2 linked regions of the Homo sapiens genome follow. The protein of the gene in region 1 purifies or fractionates together with the protein of each later gene. This does not show direct contact. Each region holds a gene or a part of one and is shown in the gene's direction. Other genes may lie near its edges.

Region 1 (7,028 bases):
GGGAGGGACTGCCACTCCATCAAAGTTTGACTCCAGGAAAAACAAAAACTAACGTTTAAAATATATAGGGAAAGCCAAAATATCAGTAGGAGAATACAGTGATTTCAGTTTACTTTGTCCTTGTGAAATGACTCCCTAGTTCTAAAAAGCATGATGTTCTGTGCTGTGAACATTGAGGTAGCATCCTTTTGAAATCTCCATTTGTGTCATGTTCAGGAAATCATAAATGAGCAAATAACAATTCATTCTGGTAGCCCTAGTTTTCAGTTGTCTCATTTAATTGAAGACCTCCACTTCTCTGCATTGACAACTGAGTTACTCGGGTGCTTGGGGTCTGGGTCATTAGTCAGCATCATCATGGTCATAAGCATTTTCAGGGACCTCAGAGTGTGCCATGTGCCCTACAGGAGGCAAGGGCACCTGAGACATCCGCCTGTTCTGTGAGACAGTGATTTCCTGCCCTGGTTTTTGCAAGGTTACTACCTGTAGTGGCTCCCCTGGTTCTCAGCATCCCAGCCCTCTGTAGCCCCTGCCTTGCCCAGTGCCTCACCCCTTCCCAGTGGCAGGAGCCAGTGGGAACTAAGAGCCTTCAGTGTAAGCCCTTATTGGAGCTAGGACTGCAGGTGAGATATGTTCTCTGTAGTAGCGTGTAGTATTTCTAGATATTTACTGATAATTTATGCAATACTTAGCTATGTATGCCCTGCCGCACCCTGTTTCCTTCTCTTACTCAGGTGCTGTCACACTTACTGGTCCCTGACACATACTGTTTACATTGTATCACACTAGGCTATAATATCCCATTTACCCACCCAATTTTTTAACTTAAAATATTTTTAAACCTGGCTGGGCGCGGTGGCTCACGCCTGTAATCCCAGCACTTTGGGAGGCTATGGCAGGTGGATCACCTGAGGTCAGGAGTTTGAAACCAGCCTGGCCAACATGGTGAAACCCTGTCTCTACTAAAAAATACAAAAATTAGTCCGGCGTTGGTGGTGCGTGCCTGTAATCCCAGCTCAGGAGGCTGAGGTGGGAGAATCACTTGAACCTGGGAGGCAGAGGTTGTAGTGAGTCGAGATCATTCCACTGCACTCCAGCCTGGGTGACAGAGCGAGACTGTCTCAAAAAAAAAAAAAAAAAAAAAAAGTATTTTAAACTTCCTTAAAACTTCTTAAAATCAGTTCAGTTATACAGTGTTAACATTCTCACCTGAAAATACTTAAATGGTTGGCATGATAGGAAATTTGACATTTATGTAGCTAAATTATTTGTATTTCATTTCTCTAGTCTTTAATCTTATGGTTTAAATCTCTAGATGGTACCATTACAGCGAGATTAAAAACAAAGAAGTCTAAAGGAAAAGGAAATGTAAAGAGAATCATTCTTCCACTCTATGCTTTGCATTAAAGGATATTTAGAATTGAAGGTTAAGACTATTGTGATAAAACAATAACTTCCAAGACATTCAAAGTGTTTTACTTACAACATTTCATACATTTTTAAGTAGATTAGAAATATACTTTATCATATTTTCCAAGCATATCACAGGGAAAGTAGAGAATCATCTACTACCCTTCTTGACCAAAGTGCCTCCACCTTTGCCCCTGTGATATGTCCTATACTCAATTATGTGAAGGAACCTGCCTTTCCCCAACATAATGTACACTTTCCCACCTCCAGGCCTTTCCTCAGGCTGTTGGCTGTTCCTGGAATACCCCTGCCCTCCCTCTAGATGGGTCTGGAGAATCTTAACCAATCAAGCTTGAAGGCTGAGCGCAGATGTCACTTTTTTTGTATGTGTGGAGGAGGAGAACTGGTGTGGGAAAATCAATATAAGCTTTGGAACTAGGCCACTGGGCTTGTGATTTCTGGTTTCATTACTTGTCAGCTTTGTAAACTTGGTCAAATTTTAAAACTTCTCTGAGCCCCAATTTCCTTATCTGTAGAATAGGGGTAAAAATACCTAACTTGGAAGGTTGTTTTGGGAATTAAATGAGATAATGATTACAAACTGTTTAATGAACTCTGACCTTCAACAAATGATTTTCCCCTTTTCCTCATGCAACCTTCCCAGAATCTCCTCGTCACCCAAATTGAAATTATTCTCCCCTCCTATTTTCACACTGTAGTTTTTTTGTGTGCCTATGATAACACTTGTGCCTGTCTGCCACAAGTTATTTGGTTTCTTAGCTCCACCCTTAAGTTGCACATTGCCAGGAGGCCAGAATTGGTTCTTACTCAGCTTTATAATCTCCAATTTCTTGCACCTATTAAGTGCTTAATAAAGGCTTGCAGATTTTGAATGAAGAATAGTTTGCTTAAGGTGTGGAAAGGGTTAGTTCATTCTTAAAGGACCCATTAAATACGCACTATTTACTAGGCAAACAGAGAAGCAGAAGTGGATAAAGCAGGAGAAGGGGTTAAAGAGCTTACAAAATCTATTAGGCTGGGTGAGAAATGCAGCCAAAATATTTGTAATATAAGGTAGGCACATGGTACAATATATGGGCTAACTGTTAGGAGTTAGTCTCCTCCCCCACAGTTGGGAGAAATTATATCTAGTTCATGAAAGAGGGACCACAGAAGGCTTTCAGAGAAGGGGTTAATTTTAGTATCGATGGAAAGACAACTCTTGGAGAGGCAGCCAAAAAAAAAAAAGGTTTGGGAGGGGGTCTTCCAGGGAACAGAGTAGGCATGGAAATGGAAAATCACCAGTGACATGCACAGAAGAATTGATGTTAGTATCCTTTGGCTTTGGATAGGAAAACTGAAAAGGAAAGAACTGGCCTACTGAAAAGTTTCATCATTTTCTATTGGGCTTCCCCTCCAAGGTCTGTGATGAGGCATGGACAGTGAACACAGGCAGCCTGTCTTACACATAGGTGAGTTTCCTGCTCTACAAAAGGAAAGATACATGCATCTTCTTTTTGGTTCCTGGCAGGCAACAGAACTTTTAAGTCACCTTGAAAGGCAAATTATGGCATATTTCTGATCAGTAAGAAAGCCGGAAAGCTCACTGATTCCTGGTTCCTGCCAGATGGTTGTCTCTTAGGTCTTAGTCTTCACTCCAAGTTATCTGGGCCCCTTCTCTCTTTCATCTTTTCTTTCCTGAAAAGGGAACTACTACTATCTTTTTTTTAACTTTTATTTTAAGTTCAAGGGTATATGTGCAGGTTTGTTATATGGGTAAACTCGTGTCACAGGGGTTTGTTGTACAGGTTATTTCATCATCCAAGTATTAAGCCTAGTACCCATTAGTTATTTTTTCTGATCCTCTCCCCTCTCCAACCTTCCACCTTCCAATAGGCCTCAGTGTGTGTTGGTTCCCTCTGTATGTCCATGTGTTCTCATCATTTAGCTCCCACTTATAAGTGAGAACATGTGGTATTTGGTTTTCTGGTCCTGTGTTAGTTTGCTAAGGATAATGGCCTCCAGTTCCATTGATGTTCCTGCAGAGGACATGATCTCATTCTTTTTATGGCTACATAATATTCCATGGTGTATATTTACCACATTTTCTTTTTCTAGTCTACCATTTATGGGAACCTAGGTTGATTCCATGTCTTTGCTGTTGTGAATAGTGCTGCAATGAAATATGCATGCATCTTTATAATAGAACAATTTATATTCCTTTGGATATATACACAGTAATCGGATTGCTGAATTGAATAGTAGTTCTGTTTTTGGCTCTTTGAGGAATTGCCACACTGCTTTCCACAATGGTTGAACTAATTTACACTCCCACCAACAGTGTATTAGCATTCCCTTTTCTTTGCAGTCTCACCAGTATCTTACTTTTTGACCTTTTTTTTTTTTTTGAGACGGAGTCTCGCTCTGTCACCCAGGCTGGAGTGCAGTGGTGCGATCTCTGCTCACTGCAAGCTCCGCCTCCCGGGTTCATGCCATTCTCCTGCCTCAGCCTCCCCAGCAGCTGGAACTACAGGTGCACGCCGCCATAATAGCCATTCTGACTGGTATGAGGTGGTAATCTGATTGTGGTTTTGATTTGCACTTCTCTAATAATCAGTGATGTTGAGCTTTTTTTTTAATATGCTTGTTGGCCACATGTATGTCTTTTGAAAAGTGTCTCTTCATGTCCTTTGCCCACGTTTTAATGGAGTTGTTTGTTTTTTCCTTGTAAATTTAAGTTTCTGATAGATGCTGGATATTAGATCTTTGTCAGATGCATAATTTGCAAAAAGTTTTCTGCCATTCTGTTGTAGGTTGTCTGTTCACTCTGTTGATAGTTTCCTTTGCTGTGTAGAAGCTCTTTGGTTTAATTAGATCCCATTTGTCAATTTTTCCTTTTGGCACAATTGCTTTTGGTGTCTTGCATAATGAAATCTTTGCCTGTTCCTATGTCCAGAATGGTATTTCCTAGGCTGTCTTTTGGGTTTTTATGGTTTTGGATTTTACATTTAAGTCTTTAATCCATCTTGAGTTGGCTTTTGTATATGGCATAAGGAAGGGGTTCAGTTTCAGTCTTTTGCATATTGCTAGCCAGTTATCCCAGCACCATTTATTGAATAGGGAGGGAGTCCTTTCCTGGTTGCTTGTTTTTGTCAGCTTTGTCGAAGATCACATGGTTGTAGGTGTGTGGCCTTGTTTCTGAGCTCTCTATTCTGTTCCAATAGTCTATATGTCTGTTTTTGTACCCCTCCCATGCTTTTTGGTTACTGTTGCTTTGTAGTATAGTTTGAAGTTAGGCAATGGTGATACTTCCAGCTTTGTTCTTTTTGCTTAGGATTGCCTTGGCTATTCGGGCTTTTTTTTTGGTTCCATATGCATTTTAAAGTAGTTTCTTCTGGTTCCGTGAAGAATGTCATTGGTAGTTTGATAGGAATAGTATTGAAACTACAAACTGCTTTGGGTAGTAGATAGTCCATTTTAACAATATTGATTCTTCCTATCCATGAGCATGGAATGTTTTTCCATTTTCTGTGTCATCTCTGATTTCTTTGAGCAGTGTTTTGTCATTCTCATTGTAGAGATTTTTCCCCTCCCTGTTAACTGTATTCCTATGTATTTTATTCTTTTTGTGGTGGTTAAGAATGGGACTGCATGCCTGATTTGGCTCTCAGCTTGACTGTTGTTTATGTATCGGAATGCTAGTGATTTTTGCACATTGATTTTGTATCCTGAGACTTTGCTGAAATTATGCATCGGCTTAAGGTGCTTTTGGCCCGAGACTATAGGGTTTTCTAGATACAGAATCATGTCATCTGCAAAAAGGGATAGTTTGACTTCCTTTCTTCTTACTTGGATGCCCTTATTTCTTCCTCTTGACTGATTGCTCTGGCGAGGACTTCTAATACTATGTTGAGTAAGAGTGGTAAGACAGGACATCCTTGTCTTGTGCCAGTTTTCAAGGGGAATGCTGCCAGCTTTTGCTCATTCAGTATGATGGTATTATGTTGGCTGTGGGTTTGTTGTAGATGGCTCTTATTATTTTGAGGTATGTTCCTTTAATACCTATTTTGTTGAGGGTTTTTAACATCAAAAGGTGTTGAATTTTATCAAAAACCTTTTCTGCATCTGTTGAGATAATCACGTGGTTTTTGTCTGTAGTTCTGTTTATACAATGAATCATATTTATTGATTTGCATATGTTGAACCAAACTTGCTCCCCACGGATAAAGCCTATTTGATCATGGTAGATAAGCTTTTTGACGTGCTGCTGGATTTGGTTAGCGCAGCTACTTATCTCTTTAAATATACTTCACATTCTTCTGAAAAGCATAAGTACTATTTCATTTATTTCCGTGACAGCCTATTGGGAAGCAGGTATCTGCACTTTCCACATTTATTCGGCATAATGACCTATGTTGTTCTACCATCCCCATCACTCTGTGCCCTTGATGTGGGTACGTGCTCCAGATATGCTCGCAGAAAAGAACCTGGAGCACTTACAGACTTTTCCTGTGCAGTTCCATGGGACAAAGCTGAAGACCCTCAGCCTTGACTTCCGATACAAACACTTAATGAAGGTTTTTAAACAATAAGAAATCCGGTGCCCTGTGTCTGAACATACTCCTAATATGAAAAGAGCACTCATGGAAACAGCTAAGTGTGGTGACATCAGGAGATGTCTTGTTTGTTTGTTTTGTTTTTATTTATTTTTTTTATTTTTGAGACAGAATCTCACTCTGTCGCCCAGGCCAAAGTGCAGTGGTGTGATCTCGGCTCACTGCAACCTCCACCTCCTGGGTTCAAGCAATTCTCATGCCTCAGCCTCCCGAATATCTGGGACCACAGGTGTGCACCACCACAGCCAGCTAATTTTGTATTTTTTTAGTAGAGACGTGGTTTCATCATGATGGTCAGGCTGGTCTCGAACTCCAAGCCTCAAGTGATCTGCCCACCTTGGCCTCCCAAAGTACTGGGATTACAGGCATGAGCCACTGCACCCAGCCAGTTGTTCTTATTTTAATTCAGTTACAATGCAGAGGAACTCTGTCTTAGAAGTTACTTGTAAACAGAAACTCTATATATCAAAATACATTGTCTCTTATTTAGAAGCAGAGAATATAGCGAGAATATGTTATTGTGCCAATAGAGTACTTAAGCTATAAGTGTATTTTATAGAAATGCAGATTTTAAGAGATAGATCAGTATACATCTGATCTGTAGATTGAATCTATACCATCCATACAGTAGATGGGATTGAAATTGATTGAATACTTGACAGAGGGCATTATCAATAGATGTTAAAAGGAATAGAAGATTATCCAGACTAATAATTGTTTTGTTAAAGATCTAGAGAAAAGTTTTGATGAAACAGTGAACACAGTTTCCAGCTCTATCTTCTTTCCTTGAACACGTACCAGCTCCCTGGTTGGAGAATTAAATTTTCTCTTTGAGTTTACATGGCACCCAAAGATAGGCTGTGCTTACACTACCATGGAAACAAACAATATTGCATTGTAGGTAGGCCATCTCTTCTGTAACAAGTCACCGAGGCAACCACTCTGACCTAGAAAAGAGAGACTAAATCCAATTCTCCATGCATCATGGTGCTAGTGGCTTCT
Region 2 (7,028 bases), on another chromosome or scaffold:
CTTCAGCCACCCGAGTAGCTGGGATTACAGGTGTGCACCACCATGCCCAGCTAATTTTTGATTCTTTAGTAGAGATGGGGTTTCACCACGTTGCCCAGGCTGGTCTCAAACTTTGGAGCTCAAAGTGATCCGCCTGCCTCGGCTTCCCAAAGTGTAGGGATTACAGGCATGAGCTGCTGTGCCCAGCCTGTTTCTGCATTAATTTAAATCTTTTTTTTCCATAGCTTTTCTTAAATCCCATGTCCTCTGTCAAGCCTTTTTTGAGTATCCGTCCTCGGGTCACTACCTGCTACCTGTAGACTGTTCATTTGGGTGGCTTTGCTGGGGTTGCCTGTGAAGCCATACAGAGGCATGAGCCTCCTAGTGCCAGCCTAGCACATGCCATGATTTTGGTTAGCAACTTTAGCAACTTACCTATTGCTTAGCAGCTTACCTATTGCTGTTCACAAACCACCATGCCAAGCACAGGGCCCTACATGTAGTGGGAATTTGATTTTCCTTACGTCAGCACACATGATCATCGTGATTAGGATGGAGGGAAAAGTGAGTATTAGACATGACGGGTTTTGCTCAACTGGAGTTATTTAAGAGATTGTGATTCAGCTAACAGTAGGAGAACTAGACAGAAAGCTGGCTTTTAGGAAGACTGGTCAGCTTTCATTAGAGATTTTGGTGAGTTGGGCACAGGAGAAAGTTTTTTTTTGTTTTTGTTTTTGTTTTGAGACAGCCTCTTGCTCTGACACCCAGGCTGGAGTGCAGTGGCGCGATCTTGGCTTACTGCAAGCTCTGCCTCCCGGGTTCACGCCATTCTGCCTCAGCCTCCCAAGTAGCTGGGACTACAGGCGCCCGCCACCACGCCCTGCTAATTTTTTGTATTTTTAGTAGAGCTGGGGTTTCACCGTGTTAGCCAGGATGGTCTCGATCTCCTGACCTCGTGATCCGCCCGCCTTGGCCTCCCAAAGTGCTGGGATTACAGGCTTGAGCCACCGCACCTGGCCAGGAGCACGTTTTAGAAGGAGATGTGTCAGTTGCCTATTGAGATTTTTTTTTTTTTTTAGTCCAGTGGGAAATCCTGGTAAGTAGTTGGAAATGTAGGGAAAAAGTCTATGGATAATGTGTATTTTGTAATGTGAATATTTTCTTTCTTTTTTGAATAGTGTCCCGAGCAAGAGAAGCAGTCCTGGATGCCCACTTTCTTGTTTTGGCTTCAGATTTGGGCAAAGAGAAAGCAAAGCAGCTGCGCTCAGACCTGAGCTCCTTTGACATGTTAAGATATGTTGAAACTCTAGTAAGTTCAAAGCTACAGACTCTGAATAAAAAATGTTCTGTTATATATTATAATTATTTACTGTGCTCATATCCATATGCAGATGATTTCACTTCATTCTTCTTTTTTGGTCTCAGATTCCTCTGTAGAGATCTTACCAATTTAAACAGACGAAAGTAGAACCATGTGGTGGAATCTTGGGTGGGGGCTTGGAGTAAAAATCTCGTAGCATTCTGTCTTAAGATGCTGGGTGCTATGGTCATTTGCCAATGGCCATTTTTCCTCTGTTCACTGGTGTTCTAGATCATTCTCAGTGACCTCAGACCTTTGTCCTGGGCTGGACAAAAGCCCACTCTGCGATGGCAGAGCTCAGCTGGAATTGAGTTAGGCCTGGCGAGAGGGCATGTTTTGGTCTGTCTTTGAGAATATTTCAAAACCATGTGAATATGATTGGGTTTTGCTTTTTTTTTTTTTTTTTTTTTTCCTTTGAGACAGAGTCTCGCTCTGTCGCCCAGGCTGGAGTGCAGTGGCGTGATCTCGGCTCACTGCAAGCTCTGCCTCCTGGGTTCACGCCATTCTCCTGTCTCAGCCTCCCAAGTAGCTGGGACTACAGGCGCCTGCCACCACGCCCGGCTAATTTTTTGTATTTTTAGTAGAGACGGGGTTTCATCATGTTAGCCAGGATGGTCTGGATCTCCTGATCTCGTGATCTGCCCGCCTTGGCTTCCCAAAGTGCTGGGATTACAGCCGTGAGCCACCTAGCCCAGCCAGGTTTTGCTTTTTTGGTTTTATGTTTTATTCACCTTTCTTTGTCTCTTGACAAGTTTGAATAGTGGTTACCTGCAATTCTAAAACTGTTCCTTGATGAATTTACCAAAAAAGAAAAAGCACACAGAGACTGACCTTGTATCTCACTTTGTTGTCTTTTTAAAAAATTCTATTCTGGCTGGGGGCAGTGGCTCACGCCTGTAATCCCAGCACTTTGGGAGGCTGAGGCGGGTGGATCACCTGAGGTCAGAAGTTTCAGACCAGCCTGGCCACCATGGTGAAAGCCCGTCTCTACTAAAAATAGAAAAATTAGCTGGGTGTGGTGGCAGGCGCCTGTAATCCCAGCTACTCGGGAGGCTAAGGCAGGATAATCCCTTGAACCCAGGAGGCAGAAGTTGCAGTGAGCCGAGATCGCGCCACTGCACTCCAGCCTGGGCTACAGAGTGAGACTGCACCTCAAAATCAATCAATCAATCAGTCAATCTGTCAATCTGAGCCAACCTCTGTCCTAGCACAGATAGCTGCACCTCAGTATGAATATTGCATTTCTAACTGGATGTTTATGTTAAATGGTTATTAAAATAATTTAGTACTATGAGATCTGATCAGATAATTTTTTTGTAAAGGCATGAGGCACCAGATTATTTCCAGTTTGTTTTTCAAACCTTTTCCTTTTTTTTTTTTTTTTTTAACTTTTTTTTATTGTGAAACATAATGCACTTAGGAAAGTGCACTGTAATATAGAGGTCAATAAAGTAACCATGTATTGGGTATTTCTTTAAAAATTACTTTATCAGGTTAAGCTCTATTTTTTTATTTTTTGAGACAGAGTCTTGCTCTTGTTGCCCAGGCTGGAGTGTTGCCCATGCTGGAGTGTTGCCCAGGCTGGAGTGCAGTGGCACGATCTCAGCTCACCGCAACCTCCACCTCCTGGGTTCAAGCGATTCTCCTGCCTCAGCCTCCCAAGAAGCTGGCATTACAGGTGCCTGTCCCCACGCCTGGCTAATTTTTAGTAGAGGTGGGGTTTCGCCATGTTGGCCAGGCTGGCCTCGAACTCCTGACTTCGTGATCCACCCGCCTGGACTTCCCAAAGTGCTGGGATTACAGGCATGAGCCACCGTGCCCGGCCAAGCTCTGTACTTTAAATAACATATCAAAATAAATTCTGGAAGTCTTAAAGCATTAAATATAAAACCTTAAATTAATAGTTGTCCAGTCTCTGGGTGGAGAAGACTTTCGTATGTATAGCATCAAATATAGACACTATAAGGAAAGATTGGTGGATTTCTCTGTCAGTTAAACAGACCAAAACTGCCACGTCTGCCTACAAGGGTGCAGTGGTAGTTCGGGCGGCAAGGGAATGGAGAAGAGCTGGCCATAGCGCTCTGACCAGGCTCTTGTAGCCTTTCTTTTCTTTAAAGTCTGATTGCCTTTAATAGGGTTAAGCTCCCTGAGGGTTTTGTGATTATTGTTTATATATGATATTGCCATCGTAATTGGATAACTTCTAGGCATTTTACAGTATAATGTAATAAAAATGTACTTTCATAAAAGTAAATTCAATATAACACATTTTCTGTAAGACAGTTTGAGATGAGAGAATTATTTGACTTCCGCCAACTCTTCCCAGGAAGGCAATTTTAAGATGAGCCATTCTCTCAGTGATGCCGGGCCACTGCTCTCTGGATATACTGAGATACAAGCTGAATAGAGATTTGTAGGAGGTTGGCAAAAAATTAAAATCTGAAAACCAGCTGAACTTCCTTGTGCTGTCTTGAAGCTTTTGATTTGGGATTTAATTTTATATTTATATGTTAGTGCAGCTTTACTAATACACGAACTATTGGTGATACAAAAAATCCCAGGGGGCTGAGTTCTGGCATACCTAAATACTTCTGGCTGCCAGTGGGCTACAGCAGGGTTTCTCAGCACTGGCACTATGGATTGGCATTTTGAGCTGGGCATGTCTTTGTTTTGGGGGCTGTTACTGTGCATTATATGATATTCAACAGCCTCCATGGCCTCTACCCAGTATATGCCAGCAGCATATCAGTTGTGACACCCACAAATGTCTCCAGGTATTGCCAGAAGACCCCTGTGGGCACGTATACCCAGGTTGAGAACCACTGGTCTAAATCATTTCACTTTCTCACCCAAAGGTTTTAAGTACATTGAGGAATGTTTTCTGCCAAAAAGAAGGTAGCTTTGGAAGCAGGACTTTAACTGTAAAGTTATCTTCACAGTAAGAAATTTAGCCAGCATGTTAAGACACTGAAAGCTGGCTTTGCGTCTGGCCTCTTAAAGGTTGAGTGATGCGGATTATTGGATGTGGAAAATGATTGCATGTGGCTTAACTGGGTTTTTTGTTTTCCTTCATTTTTGTAGCTCACACATATGGGTGTAAATCCGCTAGAAGCTGAAGAACTCATCCGTGATGAAGATAGTCCTGATTTTGAATTCATAGTCTATGACTCCTGGAAGATAACAGGCAGAACAGCAGAAAACACCTTTAATAAAACCCATACATTCCACTTTCTGTAAGATTATTTTAAAAATCCAACAGACCAGTTATTTGTGAACCTTAAATTGCTTTTTCTTGTAGGGACAAAGATTATTTGGTATTGTAGAGGTGACAGTCATGATGCCGTTGTTTGGAGACTTTTGAAACTTTGATATGAAAGTTCATAAACACTAGGCCGGGTGTGGTGGCTCATGCCTGTAATCCCGGCACTTTGGCAGGTGGATGCAGGTAGATCATCTGAGCTCAGGAATTCAAGATCAGCCTGGGCAACATGGCGAGAACCCATCTCTACCAAAAATACAAAAAATTAGCCCGCTGTAGTGGCCCATGCCTGTGGTCCTGGCTACTTGGGAGGCTGAGGTGGGAGGATCACTTGAGCCTGGGAGGCAGAGATTGCAGTGAGCTGAGATTGCGCCATTGCACTCCGGCCTGGCTGACAGTGAGACCCTGTCTCAAAAAAGAAAAAAAAGTCCATAAACTCTAGATGTGGATGGAACCTTAAAGGATCTCTCATTCTGCTTTAGCAGAAAAGGCCAGAACCTCTTTACCAGTGCTCTCCTGGCTCCTTTGCTTCTAGCTCATGAGACTCTGGGTTTATCATCTTTAAAATCCTTATCATATAGGAGGATGATACCTCCTACTGAGGGTATCTTATGAGTCTCCCAACGTCTAAAGTGACATTTATTATAATACCCTGTTAGATGACCACTGACTTGTATTTGAAGATTACTTGTCACTGCCACATAAACTGTCCAGTTCATTTTTTAGATAGAACTCTGATTTAAAAAAAAGATTTCTTTATATTTGAATGAAGTTGGCTTCTGTCTTAACTTCCTGGCATGGTCCTATGGAGAAATTAAGAACAGCTCTTACTGGCTCTTCTCTAAGAGGACCTTCAAGTATACTGGTTTTGTTGCCCAGTAAATACTTTAGGGTAGCCATCTGAGTTGTTCAGTCCTTCTTTAAGTGGTATAGCTCCTGGGCTTTTGTCTTTTCTAATTTGTCTTTCTAAAAACCATTGAGATTGATAGTAGCTCGGGTAGAAGGCCTTGGAGATGCCAATGTAGTAGTGTGGTGTGGGGTCTGGCATCTATTTTTAATAAGACTTCAGGTAACTCAGGTGCCCAGAGCCATTTGTGTATGTTCTATTTAATAGGATGTAGTCCAAACTTCTTCATCTTAGGATAAAGTCTAAATCTTTGTTTTTTGCTATTGTACTAAACTCATAAATCCTAGGTTATAAAGATAAAGCCTTAAACTTTATCTCATCATCCAGCCCAATTTCCAGCCACAATGAAGTACTTAAAACTCTGTGTCTTTGTACTTGCTGTTCTCTTGGCCTCCAATTCCTTTTCATCTTTTCCATTCGGTAAAGTTTGTTTATCCCACAGGCCCCATCTTGGAAGCCTCCAGCAACTTCTCCAGACAGAGGTGTTAGCAGTGTAGGATCAGATTTCTCAACCACGTCACTCCCATGTCTGGGTAGATATCTCTGCCCAAGTGTTCTCATAGCACTTGAGCAGTACTCTCTAAGCGCCCAGGATCTACCATGTTGCTTTTTTAAAATTTGATTAATTTATTTTTTTATACTGCTCCTTGTGGAGCAGGAGTGTTCCCAGAGTAGCCCACCATGTTATATTGAAATGGATCTGTGTGCATAATGCAGCTGTCCATCTACATCGTATATTTTTGTCTCCTCAAGGGTAGGGACCACATGAGCCTTATTCTTGGGGCTTTGATCTCTACATGATGCAGACTTACATCTATTACTGTAACCCAAGTCTGCATGAGGGCAGAATCCAGAAGGAAAAGGAATCCCATGGCTGTGACTTGCCCTGTTATCCTAAGACAGATGTGTTCTGTAGTCCTGGGCTGGGAGCCTCTGCCTTGGCCTCCCCAGATCAAAGTCTTCTGACCCCACTGGAGCTTCCCCACATACATGTTCATCCTTCCCCTGCTCTTAGAAGTTGGCTTTGCAAAACAATAGGTTGGGTGGTGGGAAGATGTCACAGGCATATTCACTGGCCTACTTTACAGGGCAGTATGTAGGTGTCTGAGGAGGTATCTGTGGTTGAGTAAAGCTCCTAGGAGTTCTTTTAGAAATACAAAGAAGGCAGAAAGGCTGTCACAAACCTTATCAAGAGTCTTACTCTGATGTCAGCTTGTATATCACTGATGTCTGGTCTGAATTTGACTATACCATGCAAACTACTTTTAGTTAGTAAAGTTAGTTTGTTTAACAAACAACAGGCAAAAAAAATAAATGAAAGCATACTTTTCATTAGGTTGGGTTCAATATACGGAGAGTGCCCTGTGCCAAAGCCACGAGTTGATCGTCCAAGAAAAGTTCCTGTGATACAAGAGGAGAGGGCAATGCCTGCCCAGGTTTGTTTTAAAATGTTGCTTTTAAAAAAACACATTAAAGTTAAAATAGCTGTTAAAATAATGTGCATGCAATTTGGCCATTTTTTC

What was found. The genes of interacting proteins can lie anywhere in the genome.
Region 2: the proteins of BMAL2 (region 1) and NSMCE4A purify together in Homo sapiens (co-immunoprecipitation; 2 studies listed by BioGRID and IntAct, with this or other methods). This does not show direct contact.

What each region holds. Positions count from the first base shown.
Region 1 is NC_000012.12:27,335,825-27,342,852, forward strand, and holds part of BMAL2 (basic helix-loop-helix ARNT-like protein 2), read left to right. Parts: intron 1-7,028. UniProt on the Homo sapiens protein: Transcriptional activator which forms a core component of the circadian clock.
Region 2 is NC_000010.11:121,965,199-121,972,226, reverse strand, and holds part of NSMCE4A (non-structural maintenance of chromosomes element 4 homolog A), read left to right. Parts: intron 1-1,157; coding exon 1,158-1,288; intron 1,289-4,420; coding exon 4,421-4,572; intron 4,573-6,841; coding exon 6,842-6,941; intron 6,942-7,028. UniProt on the Homo sapiens protein: Component of the SMC5-SMC6 complex, a complex involved in DNA double-strand breaks by homologous recombination. The complex may promote sister chromatid homologous recombination by recruiting the SMC1-SMC3 cohesin complex to double-strand breaks.